Linked DNA regions of Homo sapiens: region 1 is linked to region 2. Evidence: fine-mapped expression QTL. A gene starts in region 2. The other region holds a variant in brackets. All regions are shown on one strand. Distances are between the middles of the regions.

Region 1 (2,916 bases), 50 kb after region 2:
CATGTTCTGTTATACATATATATGTAAAATATAATAATAATGATATGCGGGCTGGGGACGGTGGCTCACAACTATAATCCCAGCACTTTGGGAGGCCGAAGCAGGTGGATCACTTGAGGTCAGGAGTACGAGACCAGCCTGGCCAACATGGCAAAACCCCATCTCTACTAAAAATACAAAAATTAGCCAGGCATGGTGGCAGGTGCCTGTAATCCCAGCTGCTGGGAGGCTGAGGCTGGAGAATCGTTTGAACCTGGGAGGCAGAGGTTGCAGTGAGCTGAGATCATGCCCCTGCACTCCAGCTTGGGTGATAGACCAAGACTCCGTCTCAAAAAAAAAAAAAAAAAAAAAAAAAAACAACGATATGTGCAAAATGTGTAGTTGCGGTTCTGAGCAGGGAATGATATATTCTGCAGAGGTTGGTGACACCAAAGTAAGAGAAAGCATCGTCGTGGAGATAATTGCATTGGATCTTAAAGGATGAGGAGGAGTTCACAGTGTTAATAAGGTAGGGAACCACATGTTAGACAGAGGCACTAGCACGTGTGAAGGCACAAAGCATGTTCAGGGAACTGGAAAAGGTTTGCTGTTGTTGACTACAAAGGCAGGGCTCTGAAGACAGGGCAAAGGGGGAGATACAGGAGTTGAAGCTAGAGAGGGAGATCAGGGCAGAATTGCAGAGGGGATCCATGCCATGTGGGGGCATTTGGCCTGTATTCTGATGATAGGGAAGACACTGAAAGGTTAGAGGCGTGACGTGATCAGCTTCATGGCATAGTAAGTTACCTGATGGTACTGGATAAATTAGAAAAGGAGTGAAATGGAGTTAGGGGAGACTTGTCACAGTACATGCAGGACCTGATAAAAGCCACACAAAACCTAGAAGATAAAGGAGAGAGTGCATTCAGAAGTCACTGACTTCAGATAGACACGGTAGGACTTGGTATGACAGAAAAGTCTTTAAAACATTAGTTTGGTAAATGTGTATCTGTGTGTATATGGATGGATGAATAGACAGATATAAAATTAGATTCTAGTTTTAAGAGATGTTAGAGGAATATCCTGATGCTTTAAAAAGGGAGTCTAGGCCAGGCATGGTGGCTCACATCTGTGATCCCAACACTTTGGGGGGGCTCAGGCGAGAGGATTGATTAAAGCCAGAAGTTTGAGACCAGTGTGGGCAACAAAGATCTCTACAAAAAAATAAAATAAGTAAAAATTTAAAAGGAGTTTATAAAGGTCATTAGCTTATTAGGAATATATTAAAAGAAACATGGTGCACAGTATTTATATAGAATTGATTTATGAGGATTCCTGAAGTATTTGGCAGCTACACTTGTATAGACCTTAATTTTTC[A/G]TCAGCCTCAGTCAGTTCAGTTTTTGCTTTAAACAACAGAGAAACATGCTTTCCTCTAAGGTAACAGACCTAAGGAATTTTTTTAATTTTTATTTTTTGAGACAGAGTCTCGCTCTATCACCCAGGCTGGAGTGCAGTGGCGCGATCTCGGCTCACTGCAGCCTCCGCCTCCTGAGTTCAAGCAGTTCTCCTGCCTCAGCCTCCCAAGTAGCTAGGGCTACAGGTGTGCACCACCACACCAGGCTAATTTTTATACTTTTAGTAGAGATGGGGTTTCACCATGTTGACCAGGCTAGTCTCAACCTCTTCACCTCGGATGATCCGCTAGCCTTGACCTCCCAAAATGTTGGGATTACAGGCAAGAGCCACTGTGCCCAGCCCCAAGGAATTTAATATCAAGGTAACATGACAGGTTTTTTTAGAAACAGGGATGGAGAGTTAATGATGTGCATGTAAAAGATGTTACTATTTTTCAAGAGTGTAGTTGTGTTTTGTGTTTTCATTTTCCTCTTATTTACACTTGGCTCTGCTCTTCCCAACCCTGCCCCTGCCTCAATTTGGTGGACTAATTAGGTGTGTTTTCCTCCTGCATTCTCTTTTCTTTATGCTCATCTGCCAGGCTGGTTGTTTTTAACATAGGCAGTGGGAGGAACACATAGGACAGTTTGTTTACCACAGCTAAAGAGGTTCATGAGAGAATTAATCAAGATAAATCAAGGGTAAATGAGTAAATCAAGATAGCTAACTTGATCAAGATTTGGACCCAGAACTAGTGTGCTAGATAACTAGTGTTCATTAAGATAGGGCTACCACTACTATTTTATGGCTATCACTGTGAAGATAAAACATCTTTGCTGGTTACTTAATCCACCTTCATGAGCATCTCTGCAGCATCTTAATTTCAGGTCTTCCAGAAAATGATATTTGTCCTAACACTAATATGAGAGAACATTCAATTTCTTCACACTTATGCATAAGTGATGTTCTTAAGTGTCAGTGCATTGGTCTTTAAATGCTGATGTTTGGGGGTTTGGAATTCTTTGATGAACTACTACTGACCAATTGAAATTTGTTTTCCCCTCCCCCCCTTGCTTACTTTCTTTCTTCCCTCCTTCCCTCTTTCTTCATTTCCTTTCTTAACTCTATTAGTGGCCGCTGGATTTCCAGCTGGACAGACTCATTTGAAGACACGATTAGAAGAGATCAGATTGGCTGTGGAAGATGGAGCTACAGAAATCGACGTGGTAATTAACAGAAGCTTGGTGCTGACAGGCCAGTGGGAAGGTAGGTGCATGCTTTTACCTAAGAGAGTTTCACCATTCTTCCCTGGTGAATCAGATGATGAGGTAAGATGTGGTATGTTTTAGAGGTCACTGTTCTAGGTGACAAGTTAGTAGATCAAATGGTGAGTTTAGGAGAAAGCAGGCTAAGATTACCCATCCTTGTGCCCCTCATAAATCTAGGCAGTTGCCTACCTACATGAACTTTTCAGATCCTTTTGAGTGCTTAGGTGAATAGTTACTTCCATGCAATAGATTCATAACTTTTAAAACAATTTT
Region 2 (2,916 bases):
CATGGTCCAGTTGTGAGTTTCAGGCCAGCTCCAGGCTTTCAGGGCCTGCTTTTCTCTTTTTCAAGGTTAATATAAAAAAGAAAAGTGCTATAGTATGTATGAGTAAGATCTACACACATCCGAAACATTCAACAGTGGCTGTGTGTGGACAAGGCTGAAAGCTCAATGTAGAGGAGTATACAAATATTACTATTCCTATTTAAAACAGCTCAGTAATTACTGTGTGAACTTGACAATAACATTAACAGCTTCCATTTTTTAAGTATCTACTGTATGCCATGTTATGTACTAGGTGCCTTGCATACATTCAACAGCTTTGCAAGGTGAACATATTTTGATCATCTCCACTTTACAGGTAAGTAGACAGACTATTATTTCCAGAACTGCCAAGTTACATTTATTAAATGGAAGAGCTGGTATATTAATGGGTTCAGCTCATTTTGAGCTCACTGTATTTCCCCTATACCAGGATGCCTTTCTATTCAGAACTTTGATGTCTAAAGTTACAGCAATGGAGATAAAATACATTATTGGCAGGATTGTTCAGAGACTCAAATGCTATCATACATCTATATATGATGTATGAAAGCACCTAGCACAATAACTGGCTCATGGTAGACAAATCATAACTAACTGTACTGTTTTCATAGCAGAGGTGCCTCTAAACGTGAGTACAGATAAGTTAACTATATTGAGATTGTGGAGTGACTCGACGATTTTAACCTCTTGGTCACAGAGAAATCAGGCTGAAGCATTTTACCTTTATAGAATCATAGTATTTTGAAGAACCAAGAAATTGTCAAGGTCTTCTTTTACAGATGAGAAAAATGAAGCTCGGAAAAGCAGTTAATTTGCCCAGGGTCACACATTTAATTATTGCCCGAGCTTGGCTAAGAAACCAGGTCTTCTGACTCCTAAGCCCTTGCCTTCTTCAGGCCACATAGCTGCTTCTTTTCATGATGTGTAGATTAGAAAAGTCAGTGTGCCCCGGGGCCCTTGATTGCACCTTGGTTTCCCTAACAAGGATATGGGATCCCTGCTGACATTTCAGACCTTAAGTTGCAGAGCTCTGCACTTGGATCTTCTTCCTTCTTGTTATATAATCTTACAGTTAAAAGTTTCTAGGAATATTTTTATTACGTGCAATTGGCAACTTCAGTATTTTTTAAAGGGTGTTGGTAGCATTATTTCCGGGAGCTACTTAGCGCTCCGGTTCGGTACCTCGTGGAGAAGACGGGGGAGGGGAGCAGCGAGATTTCCTTGCGGAGCAATATTCCTAGGGTACAGACCTCGTAGCCCGGGCCCGCGACTCCGCCCCGGGAGCGGGCAGGGGCGGGGCGAGCGCTCCAGCTGGCGGGAAGGAGGAAGGGCCGGGCGCGGCGCAGAGGCGGGCGCCTACCAGCCGGCAGCTCCGGAGCTGCCCGCGCCATGTCCGCGCACAATCGGGGCACCGAGCTCGGTAAGGGGCCCGCGGGGCTCCCCATCCCCTCTCCCTCGCGTTCAGCGCCGCCGGGACTAGCGCGGGGCCTGCTGCCGCCCAGTGCCCTGGCTGTGGGTCCCCGAGGGGTTTTCGCTGGGGCGGGAAGCAGTGGCGTCTGGTCAGCCCTCACCCCAAGTAAAGGCCGAACCCGGCACGTTCGCGCCGCTTGTCTTTGCACCTAAGCTTTTACTCTTGTATGCGGAAGGAGTAGGAAAGGGTTAGATTATTATCTTCCTGCCTTTTCGTTCACTCTAGCTCGCTGGTTGGAAAACCCAACAACCCAAAAAACAAAACCCAAAACAAACAACCCCCAAGCAGGTAAAAACAGATAAAAACCTTCTTTCTCCTCCTTTTAATAGAATACTTGTGTAATTTAATGCAGTATTTCCGTAGATAATTTTAACCGTAACCTTGAAGTGGCCGTGCTCGTGGAAAAGTTGTCAGCCGTCTGTGCTCAAAATGTAACACTGCAGATTCATGGGATTTTAGAGTTACAAAGATTTGTTAAAGTACCTGTATTATTTCCCAGTTTTCATCTTTTTTTATATTGTTCAAATACTGGCAAGAAACCTTAGTTCAGATTTCTTTTTTTTTTTTTTTTATTGATCATTCTTGGGTGTTTCTCGCAGAGGGGGATTTGGCAGGGTCATAGGACAGTAGTGGAGGGAAGGTCAGCTGATAAACAAGTGAACAAAGGTCTCTGGTTTTCCTAGGCAGAGGACCCTGCGGCCTTCCGCAGTGTTTGTGTCCCTGGGTACTTAAGATTAGGGAGTGGTGATGACTCTTAACGAGCATGCTGCCTTCAAGCATCTGTTTAACAAAGCACATCTTGCACCGCCCTTAATCCATTTAACCCTGAGTGGACACAGCACATGTTTCAGAGAGCACAGGGTTGGGGATAAGGTCACAGATCAACAGGATCCCAAGGCAGAAGAGAATTTTTCTTCAGATTTCTTAACATGTGAAAAATTTATAATTCAAACAGCAAAACCATGATCAAGAGAAGGTTTAAGCGTCTCGTTTAAGTATTATAGCTTGGATATCTGTGTATCCAGGATCTTTAACTTCTTACCTGTGTGACTTCGGACAAATTAATAACTTTGCGCTTAAGTTTCTTCATCTGTAAAATGGTTATTTTAGTGGTAGTTACCTTATAAGGCCGTTAGGAGATTAAATAGGATACATGTAAAGTAGTTTGGTATATTGTGGACACCTAGTAAGTCTTCAGTATAGATAGTATTAGTATATGGAGTTATGGTTTTAGGGGCTAATTTTGAGAAAATTGGCTGTAAATTATATGTAACACATACAGGTAGGTCCTTTTCGCCCTCCTTAAAAGTGACTGGTACTTAAACAGTCTGCACTTCCAAGAGGTGTTCTGGATTTTTTGTCGAATGGTAAGAGAGTAAATCTATCATTTTAAAGACAGTTGATTT

Evidence for each region. PIP is the estimated chance that this variant, and not a neighbour inherited with it, causes the effect.
Region 1: its variant is the best candidate, but not a certain one, in a credible set for the expression of DERA in skeletal muscle (GTEx, PIP 0.60).

What each region holds. Positions count from the first base shown.
Region 1 is chr12:15,960,307-15,963,222 of GRCh38, forward strand. It overlaps DERA (deoxyribose-phosphate aldolase), which reads left to right. Exons shown (of 9, transcript NM_015954.4): 5 at 2,507-2,641. Among named protein-coding and RNA genes, the nearest start is that of DERA, 50 kb to the left of the region's middle. The variant A/G (reference allele first, on the strand shown) is at 1,358.
Region 2 is chr12:15,909,956-15,912,871 of GRCh38, forward strand. DERA (deoxyribose-phosphate aldolase) reads left to right here and starts at 1,377. Exons shown (of 9, transcript NM_015954.4): 1 at 1,377-1,459. The coding sequence starts at 1,429. RefSeq lists enhancers at 1,067-1,811, 1,812-2,555 and silencers at 1,235-1,294, 1,315-1,664.